2 separate regions of the Homo sapiens genome follow, and region 1 is linked to region 2. The links come from fine-mapping of genetic effects on gene expression. A gene starts in region 2. The other region holds a variant in brackets. All regions are shown on one strand. Distances are from middle to middle.

Evidence for each region. PIP is the estimated chance that this variant, and not a neighbour inherited with it, causes the effect. A credible set is the group of variants that fine-mapping cannot tell apart.
Region 1: its variant is the best candidate, but not a certain one, in a credible set for the expression of TNFAIP2 in whole blood (TOPMed, PIP 0.56).

What each region holds. Positions count from the first base shown.
Region 1 is chr14:103,095,048-103,100,047 of GRCh38, forward strand. All of the region lies in intron 1 of EXOC3L4 (exocyst complex component 3 like 4), which reads left to right. Among named protein-coding and RNA genes, the nearest start is that of EXOC3L4, 2.8 kb to the left of the region's middle. RefSeq lists an enhancer at 1-256 and a silencer at 3,300-3,469. The variant G/A (reference allele first, on the strand shown) is at 2,037.
Region 2 is chr14:103,120,534-103,126,041 of GRCh38, forward strand. TNFAIP2 (TNF alpha induced protein 2) reads left to right here and starts at 2,928. Exons shown (of 12, transcript NM_006291.4): 1 at 2,928-3,418. LINC00677 (long intergenic non-protein coding RNA 677) reads right to left here and starts at 2,376. Exons shown (of 2, transcript NR_138038.1): 1 at 2,076-2,376; 2 at 316-498. RefSeq lists enhancers at 1,859-2,391, 2,392-2,925 and silencers at 2,590-2,869, 3,170-3,219.

The DNA.
Region 1 (5,000 bases), 26 kb before region 2:
CACAGAAGACACCAAGATGGGCATGCAGGCACAGACACAGACTCAGAAGCACTGGCAGACCCTCTGGGGACACTCCAGGGCAGAGTCATGCACATACAGGGAGACACTCTCAGGCCAACACACAGATGTGCAAAACCGACGCCCAGAAAAGTGTGTATATGCCCGCGCGCTCAAGCTCAGGCATCAGATTCACTTTCCTGGTTTCCCCGGGAAAGTGCCGAGTACTAGCCATGGCTGGGGGCTGAGTCAGGCTCACTCCCTGCCTTGCGGGTCTCCTGGTCTCCAGGCTCTGTAACTGTCCCTCCGTCATGGCAGGTGTGCCCAGGGCTGGGATCAGGCCCACAGCAGGAGGTGCCGAACATGGTATGGGCTCAGCTGGTCCGGGAAGGCTTCTTGGGGGAGGAGCCATTTCTGCTGAGCCTTCAATGAGTTGACAACTGAAGAAGGAGGGGCTGAGGTCATTGTAGGCAGAGAGGATGGCCTGTGCAAAGGTGTGGAGGAGAGGTGGGTACTTCTGAGTGATCAGAGTGAGGGAATGAGTTGGGACTGAAGCCAGAGGGGTCATTAGGAGAGGCCTTGAATGCCAAGCTAAGGATGGAGCTGTGCTTCTTCCGAGGGCAGCAGCGGCTCAGGGGGCTTATGCTTTGTTGCTACTGTGAAGGGAAGTCTTTTAAGTGTCTCTTTCTAATAGGCTTTGCTAGGGTATAGGAAAGGTGTTGCTTGTATTTACATAATCAATGCACAAAATTTACTAAACCCTTTTATTAGCTCCAATAATTTTCAGCCTCAGATTTTCTAAGCCAACAATCATATCACCTATGAATAATGACAGTTTAATCTGCTCCTTCCCAGTGTTTACATCTCTTATTTATTTTTCTTTCCTTATTGCCTTAACTAGTTCTTCCAGCCAAATGTTGAGGAGTAAGAATGGTGAGAACAAACATCCTTGTCATTTTCCTTATTTGCAGGGGCTGGAAGGAAAAGGAAAGCTTGCAAGGAAAGCTTTCAAAGGAGGTTTATAGGGCCGGGCATGGTGGCTCACTCCTGTAATCCCAGCACTTTGGGAGGCTGAGGCAGGAGGATTATTTGAGGCCAGAAGTTTGAGACCAGCCTGGGCACACATAATGAGACCCCTGTCTCTACAAAAAATATAAAAATTAGCCAGGCATGGTGTTGCGCACCTGTAGTCCCAGCTACTTGGGACGCTTAGGTGGGAGGACTGCTTGAGTCCAGGAGTTTGAGGCTGTGGTGAGCTATGATCGCATCCCTGCACTCCAGCAGTGGGTGAAGTGACACAGCGAGACCTCGTCTCTAAAAACAATAAACAAAGGAGGTTGACGTTTTGGCAAGATTCTTTTTTTTTTTGCAATTGTAAGATTTAGTAGAGTGAAAACAGAGCTCCTATACAAAAGGAGGGGACCCAAAGAGGGTAGCTGTTGCCAGCTCAAATGCCTGGGTTTATATCCCGATCATTGTCCCTCCCACTGTGCTCTCAGGCGATAGATGATTGGCTATTTGTTTACCTCCTGTTTTTGCCTAATTAGCATTTCTGTGAGCTCTCTTTAATACCTGATTGGTCGGGTGTGAGCTAAGTTGCAAGCCCCATGTTTAAAGATGGATGCAGTCACCTTCCCAGCTAGGCTTAGGCATTCTTAGTCGGACTAGGAAATCCAGCTAGTTCTGTCTCAGTCCCCCCTCTCAACAGGAAAACCCAAGTGCTGTTGGGGAGGTTGGCCAACGACCGTCTAAGTGCTAGGCAAGATTCTTATGACTGATCCGAGGAGGCAGCATTGAGGGGGCCTGGGAAGGAGAGCAGCTCGGAGGCTGTGATCAGGTGAAGGTGGATGGCAGGTGGGGAAGTGAGAGGGGACAAGCCCCGCACAGGGCTTCGGCCCAGGGCACAGTACAGGCAGTCACCTGCAAGAGGCTCCTTTGGAGCGTTGAGGAGTGGAGCGATGGTCCAGTCCCAGCGTAGTTGGGGAGGCTGGGGAGTGGGTGAGCACTGCAGAGTGATTGGGAGGATGAGGAGCAGCTAC[G/A]GGAGGGAAGGTCTAGGGGAAAGCGGGGAGTAGAAGCTGAGGCTGGGGGTAGGGAGGGTGGGGAAGTTCGGACTTGACTTCTCGGACACAGCTAGGGTGGCCCAGGGTGGGAGCTCTCAGTGACTGTGTCTCTGGGTGGTTTCTTGCCCCTGCTGCTGGCCCCACAAAGGGTGTATTAGCCTGACCTGGGGAGAGTGGGACCCGGGGCTCAGGCCGGGCGTCAGTCTCTGGGGCCTTGCAATCAGGGAGCGGCAGCATAGGAGCCGGGGCCCCCTGGACTCTCCGGGCACTGGGGACAGAGAGACGCAGAGAGAAAAGAGAGCCAGAGAGAGTCCATGGGGGTGTGGGGAGGCAGGCACAGGGACAGGCCAGGCGAGAGCCTTGGGAGGTGGAGGGGGGAGTTGAGAGGGGCCTTCAGGTCTCAGCCCCGCAGGCGCCAGCATGGCAGCAGGCAGGCCAGCCGGGGGTGGCAGGGCGACCCTGATACCGATGTTCCGCCTGCTTCCAGGCTGTGCTCAGGGGTGACCGGGGTAGATGGACAGAGGCTGCCAGCCCAGTGCAGGAGGGCCACATCATCACAGGGACAGTGCCGAGTACCCACTGAGCAGATAGATGGTGACGGCCGGTGGTGCAAGGCATCTGAACCCCGAGGTCCTGAAACCCAAGTCAGGTTTGGAGAACAAACAGGGGCCAGGAAAGGGAATGGCCGGAGGGGAAGCTGGAGGCTGGGCGTGCAGCCGGGAGGACAGAGAAGAAGCTGGGTGGGGTGCAGGTTGTCCGTGAACCCCAGGGGAAGCTGGTGAGGTGTCATCAGCGGGAGGTGGGGGGTGGAGGAAGGAGGTTCCAGGATGGATGCCCGGCTGTGGGGCTCGGGCAGGAGGGAACCATGGAAGGGCTTAAAGCAGGGGAGTGACCTGGCTGGACTTTTGCTTTGGGAAGGTCGAGAATAGCTTGGGAAGCTGTTGGGAGCTGCAGGGTCGAAGGTGGCATGGCTGGAGGCTGAGGGGCCATCTGGGGACCTCACTGGCCCTTCAGCGAAGTTCTGGTTTGGGACAAAAGCAGGCTGAGTGACCCCCAAGCCTCTGCCTATGTAACCTCCTAAGAGATTCACCGCACAGCTGCCCCTCCTTACCCGGCGCTCGTCTGGGCTTCCTGGGAGAGAACCTCCACATCTGACCCCACTCTGGGACCTGCTGACACCTTGGGTCTCTCCGCCGGGAGGGGAGCTTCTGGGCGGCAGTTCTGAGTCCCTGGGGGTGGAGACGTGGCAGGTCCCGCCTCTGCTCCCAGCTCCAAGCAGGCTCCCCAGCCTGAGTGCGCGGCCAGGGGCAGACTCTGTCCCTCTGTGAGCCTCAGGTTCCTCATCTGTGAAATGGGCAAATGACAACCCCTAACTTTGATGTCACAGTAGCTGATCTGTGTCAGGCATCGAGCTGGGCACACAGTAGGTGCTTACTAAGTGTGAGTTCTCCCAAACAAGAAGGCGGGGCCTGGCTTGTCCTTCCCCACATCCCCGCCTCCGTCCTCTTGACAGCGGTGGATGCAGCATGTGCTGAACCGTTCTCTTCACAACACCCCTGCCCTGCTGGGCGCCGGCCCCCATGCCAAGCATGAAGGGGCACCGGGGAGAGAGAAGCGAGTGGAGGCTGGGACAGATGGTGCCCTGAAGTGTGGGTCAAGTCCGAATCAGGCAGGGTCCCTGAACCCTGGCGCTGGGGGAAGTCGCCGACCTGTGGCCAGGGCGGGGCTGATAAAGCTCCATCAATCACTTGACTGTCTCTCCTTCCTCGGGCCTCCATCCAGCTGCTTAGCCGCCTCTGGGAACCTCAAGGAAGGTAGGTAGGCTGCAGCTGGGCCCAGCAGGCACCTTGCTGGAGGGCGAGGGTGGGTGGGGGTCTGGGCCCTGCCCACTTTGGTGTCATTCCACCGCAGCAAACTGGGGCCTGGGGAGGCACACTTCCTGCCCGATGTCACCCAAGGGTTGGGTGGTGGGTCAGGCGGGTGCTTTGGTCCTGGCACCTGGGTGGGGGGCCCTGGGGCTGGGCTAGGGGCAGGTCCAGCCCTTCTTTGGCCCCAGTTTCTCCCAGAGGAAAGTGAGGTTTTGCTGGCCTAATGCCCTCCCCCACCCATGGCCCAGCTTGTGCAATGGGGTGGGTGGGAGGCCCCTCCCCTCTCCCAACCTAAAGCCAGGAAAGCAAACACAGCTCCTAACGCTGGAAGGGGGTGTGGGTGGAGCCTGGCAGGCCACGGTGCCGAGGGCCCTGGGGGAGCAGGAGCAGCCGCAGCTCAGCCACCCCCATGTCCCTGGGACACCCCCTCCATTCCCTGTGTTGGGGAGGGGCCAGAGCATGCTATGGTGGAGAGGGAGAGGAGTGGGGGGAGGAGGAGAGGCAATGGGTGGGAAACAGCATTGAGAACCCCCCCAGTCCCTGGTTAAATATAGACCCGAGGCTCCTCCTTCTGCCGCCCCTGTGGCTGCATGGCCATGATAAGCCGCAGGGTGGCCTTGGCCACTGCCCTCAGGCCCCACACCTCCTCGGCGGGCTCTGTGACACCCAGGGAAGGGGGTGGGCTCCCATGGGGGTCCCTGCCCTCCCCGTTGAGCCAAAGTAGTCAGGCCTTTTGGGCTGAAGGCGGGTGAGCTGAGGGACCTGGAGGGCAGTGAAGGAGCTGGTGGGGGCTGGGGGGAGGGTTTTAGGCCTCAGGACCTAACATCTGGGAAGGCCTAGATGTGGCTGCTGGTCCTGCCCTCGGGTGTTGTGAGCTGTGGTCTGGACTGGGCCCCAGAACTGCATGTCAGTGCCCTCCTCCAATTCTAATGGGAGGGTCTGGCCTGGCAGAGGCCGAGTGACGGTGGGCACCTGCGGAGACCCTTTTTGGGGGATGGTCTCAGGAAAGGCTCCTGATGGAAGCAGCTGTCTATATCTCCGTGCCCAGCTGCGGCCTGGCACACTGAGGGCTCTC
Region 2 (5,508 bases):
CCAGAGCTCAAGCGATCCACCCGCCTGGGCCTCCCAAAGTGCTGGGATTACAGGCATGAGCCACCACACCTGGTATACACACCCATGTTTTATAGCAGCACTGTACACAGCAGCCAAGAGGTAGCAGCAATCCCAGTGTGCACAGAGAGATGAATGAATGCACAGTGTAGCCCATCCATACAATGGAATATGATTCAGCCTCAAAAAGGAAGGGAATTCTGATACCTGCTACCACATGAATGAATCTTGAAGGCATTATGCTGAGTGAAATAAACCTGACAACGCCCTCCTGGCAGATGCAGACACAAAAGGATAAACGCTGTGTGACTCTATTTATTTGCAGTACATAGAATAGTCAAGACCACAGAGACGAAAGGTAGAATGGCGGTTGCCAGGGCCCGGAGGAGAGGGAAAGAGGAGTTAGTGCATAGTGGGTAGAGTTTCCGTTTTGCCAGGTGACGATTTCTGCAGGTGGAGGGTGCTGTTGGTTGCACGACCCTGTGAATATACTTAATGCCACTGAACTGTGCACTTAAAAGATTATAAATTGCATTATGTATATTGTACCATAATAATTTTTAAACAGTCAGCTGTCATTGCTCTGGCAGACAGAAGGGAGGGAACATCCCATGTGTCGTAGCCTCTGAGGCCCTGGGTTGCGTGCGAGGAGCTGACCGTGGCTCCTGGCCAGGTGCTGGCACACTCGCCTTCTAGGCTAAATGGAGAGGTCATTGCCAGTCTGCTCCTGTCTGCTGCCCTCCCCACCAGGCAGAGCCCCCTGCTCACTGCCCCTGGCCTGTGCCCTGGGGAGCTGGGGAATGGGACAGCCGCTGGCCACTGGTCACAAACATCGCCACCCAGCATGTGATGCTGGCTTCCTGCTGGGGAGGAGCCGTAGGCTGGCCTTTGGCTCCTCTGGAAGTGCCTGGCCTCTTGGGAACTGCTTTCTGCATCTGCGAGAAGAGGGTAAGGACTGCTCCTGCCCTATGGGCCCCATTGGCTGTCATCCCTTGGGCCTCCATGCTGCCCCATTTTCAGAAGACTTTCCTTGTCTTGAGGACTTCACGTATGTTACCATTGACCCTCATGCCTGAGCTTAGAGAGGGGAAGTGACTGGTGCAGACACAAGTCCAAGGCAGCAGCCTCGTTTCCCAATCCCCAGCCGGTGCTCTGGGCGGGCCACTGCCGTCAGTGGGGGACAAGGGTGGCAGCCCCGCCTCAGCCCTGCAAAGCCCGTGGAGACCAGGGGCTGCCTTCGAGGGGACAGTGGGGCCTAAGGCCTGACAACGCCCTCCTGGCAGATGCAGACTTCCCGAGCAATTTCCCGATCTGCTTGGGAATGGGAGGGGGGGTGAGGGGGTGGGGTGGGGGAACAGAGTCTGGCAGGAGAGGCTTGTGGGGATTGCACAATGAGGCCACAGCAGCCAGCCGTGAAGGCAGCCACCGGCCAGGGCCCCTCAGCCCGTATCCTCATCGCCCCTGTGTGGATGAACTCCATCTGCGCGGTGCCGGTGGAAGGACCCTCCCAGCCCCGGGACACCGCGGCTCTGTGGACTCATCTGAAAAATGTCATCCCTGGAGTCCTAGGAGAGAAGGGGTGGGGTTGGCAGCCTTAACGCCCCATCCTGCATCCTGGCGGCCTCCCGCATCCGCTCCCCCACAGGTTCCCCAGAGACAGGATGATGGATGGCAATCCGAGTGCAAACCTGGCGCTTGGCCAGCACTCTGGAAGAGGAAGTTCTCAGTTCCCAGGGCACCTGAACCCACAGCCGCCCCCACTCCGCTGGCCCCCCTGGTCCTGGAAGACCTGTTACTAGGCTGCAGAAGGGGTGGCGGAGTGATCAGGGGGCGGGGAAAGAGGCCAAACAAAAGAGGGGAGGAGCAGAGGCCCCAGTGAGGCAGGAGGGAAGCCCCTGCCCAGCGGGAAATTCCTAAATGTCTGGGTCCTTTCCAGAGGGCAGGAATTCCTAGCCTAGAGTGTGAAATAAGGAAGGAAGTGAATCTCCAGTGGGTTCCCTTCACAGCCCCTTTCCATCCTCCCCACATGCCCCACCCCCACATCTCCCAAAACAAACCCTGAGAGACGGTGTGGATGGGGAGACAGGCCTGGAAACGGAGGCCTGCGCTGAATGGGCAAAGCCGGGTTGATGATCCAGACGAGGCCCTGGAGTCTGGGCCTTGGGCCCCTCCCCTTCTGCCTGCTCCGGCAGCCTGTGGGTCCAGCCCCAGCCCCAGAGGGGGAAAGGCTCCAGTGGGAGTCCCATAGGCCTGGCTAGGAACCCCACTCCGCTACTTAAAGTGGTGTGAGCCGGGTCAGCCACTTCACCTTTCCGCATTTACGCATTTCAAGCAAGGCTTGACGACCGGAGGGGCTCAAGGCCCTGTGCACAGCCGCGCGGCCAGCACTCTGGCCAGCCTTGTAGCCCCCTTCCCCTTAGGGGGCCTCCTTCAGGAAGCCCCCGTCCCCTGCCTCCTTGTGGCCACGGTGACACCGGAACACTTCAGAGGGGCGGCTGGGGAGTTGGGGTGGGACGGGCTCTCCCGCAGCTGGAGCCGGTGTGTGACGCGGGAACGCGGCCAAGCGCGCCCCATCCAGGCGGCCTATCAGGAGCCGTCGTCGGACAATGGCTCCGCGCCTGACAACCCCGTCGTCCCCGTGCCGTCCCCCGAACTCCACATACCATGCGACGCGCGGCCAGCCCCCCGCCCCTGCCCGGCTGCTGGGAGGAAGTGACAGCGCCCCGCATCCCCCGCTGGGCAGGCCGGGCGCGCCCAGCCCCTGGGACGCAGGGACACAGCCGGGCCGCGCTGGGCCTTGGCCTCCGCCCGCGGGTTTTCCGCGGTTGCGGCGGGGCGGGGAAGGAGGGGCGGGCGGGGCGGGGCTGACTCTGCGACTATTTCAGGCCTTGCGGAACCCGGGCCAGGACAGTGGCGGCCAGGCCGGGACACGGTAAGTGACCTCCGCTTCCACACGTCCATTCCCCGCCGCTCCGCGCGGCTTCTCGCCCGCCCCTACCCCGAGGCCAGGCCGGATTCCCCGAGGAAAGAGCCTGTCGCCGCGGCGGGGACAGGAGGGGGCTGGACGCTTCCAGGGAAACTGAGGCCCTGGCGCGCCCAGCGTCCGCGCGTCCGGGCGCAGAGGGGCCAAGGCTGGCTGAGGGCCCGGGCCTGCCAGAGGCAGGGAGGGCGGGGCTGGGGCAGGCGCAGGGGTCTCCCCTCCATTACAGCAGAAAGGCCCCAGGTCCGGCGTGACTCCCCGGCCGGGCGACACAGGCCGAGTCACTTCCTCGCCCGTGCCCGGGTGTCCTCATCGGGGGATGGGTGCGCCTTCCACATCCTGCCCAGGACTGAAGGAGCCGGGCCCAGCGAGCTCCCGGGAGGTGTGTGGACATCAGCCCTGACGGGGAAGGCGAGCCAGGTCAGTGGACCTGAGGAGAGGCCGGGCAGCAGGAGGCTGGGGGGCGCTGTTGAGCCACTGGCTGTGACCCCTCTACGAGCCTCCCAGCAGGCCCCTTCCTGCCTCAGTGGGCCCAACCAGCGGCAAGGCTCAAAGGAACGCCCCTCCTCCCCTTCTTCCTTTCTGGCTGCACCGGCTCGCTGCTGCCTGCAGGACAGACTCAGGACACAGGAGACTCACCCCCACTGAGGCCCAGCTAGGCGCCCAGCACTTGGCTGTGCGGTTTGGCCACATCCCCTCAGCAGCACTGTGGGGTGGGGGTCCTCATCCCCTTTTCAAAGACGGGGAAACGGCGGCTTGTGAAGGAAGGAGGTGTGCAGTCCACACACTAGTGAGAAGTGTGCTGAGCCCACACCGAAAGCGTTTCTCTTTCCATGGCACCAGCTGCCTCGGAGAGCGGAGACCTGGGGCGAGGCCCAGGGGGCTGCAGCAGGACCTTCAGGCGCTCTGGGTTTCGTGTCACAGAGGGGAGAAGGCGGTGATGCTGTGGGGGTCCTGCGGGAGCTGTGCCTGGAGGTGGGACAGAGCCTAGTACATGTGGGGTGGGACAGGGAAGGCTGAGGTGAGGCTGGCAGGGAGCATTGCTGGTAAGGGCCACCCTCCCCCACCCCAGGAGAATGGCAGAGGTGGGGCCTGGGCACCCAGGGTGGGGCTGAGTGGCCCTGCCAGACAGACCAGCTCCCGCGGGTGCTAGGCATGCACCTGAGAGGGGCTGGGAAGCGAAGTTGGGGCACCGGGTGGGGAGCAGAGGTGCCCCATGGCCTTGCCCCTGGGGCTCCCTGGAGCATGCCCCTCTTGGTCCTGGAGTGGAATGCTCAACCCAAATGGCACTAGGGAGGCCAGTGCCATCCAGGAGTGTGGGACTCTGCCCAGGGCACTGGGTGAGCATGGCAGGGGCTGGGGGTGGGAGGAGCCCAGGCTTCCTGTCCCTCAGGTGGCTCTGGCCAAGCCCCTCCAGGATGGGGACAGGGTAGTGGGGCTGGTGGAGGCAGCGGGGCCATGGGAAGAGTCGGATGGGCCCAGTCTGAGCCTCCATGGCTGCTGTGCTTGGGGCAAACACCTCCTACTCAGCCTCAGTTTCTCCTTCTGGATGGTGGATCATCCTGCCTGCCTTGCAGGGCTGTTTCAGGGGTCACTTGAAGTTACCATGATACATGAGACAAGGCTGCATGCATTTAGTCTTGGGGTGGGGCAGACAGGTGGCATCAAGGTTACAGGTCACCCCAGTTCTTGGGGAGGCCCAGCCCCTGCCTGCTTCCCCCTTTCAGATCAGCCATGCTCTTCTCCAGTGGACCTGGCCTTGCTCTGACAATGGTCAGGTGCTGGGCAGGGACTCTGGGGAAGCTCGGGTCTTGCCTCTCTGGATGTAGCTTGCAGGATAGCTGGGGATGTGGAGGCAGGGGAAAGCTGGGCTCTGGGACCGGGTGGCCTGAGTTCCAAGCCCAAGCTATTGACTATAGGGACAGTTTAAGCCGAAATAACACCCTTCCAGATGAGAGAAAGGAAGAGATGGGATGGGCACCCAGGAAGGCTGCAGAAACTGGAAGCCTTTGTGATGATGCTACGATCCCATTTGGGAGGGGGTGGGAGCCAGGAAGCCTGGGTTCTGGACCCGAGTTGCTGTGTGACTTCAGGCCGCCCTGTGACTTGCTGAGCCCCTTGCCCCAGTGATGTGTGAAAGGCTGTCTGAGGTCCCACCCACTGTGGCTTCTGTAGATCCTGGTCAGGCTCTGCCCCTTTCATGGCCCAGCTGGAGCAGCTGTGTTTCTGTGACCCCACCGCTGGATCAGAACTGGACAAGATGGCAGAGGGGCTGGGTCTGGGCAGGAGGAGGCTGGGTTCCAGTCTCAGGCCGGTTCTGGTGTTCTAGACCCCGGCATGTCCCAGACCTTTCTGGACCTCTGTTCCTGCTCTGTCCAAAGGGACAGAGCCCATGCCCCGCCTCTTCCCTAGGGTCCCGTGGGATCCAGGGAGGTGTCCATTGCCTGCTTCCTGCCCAGAGGGTGGGCTGGCAGGGAAGGATTTGCCCAAGTAAAGTGAAAGTCCCCCTC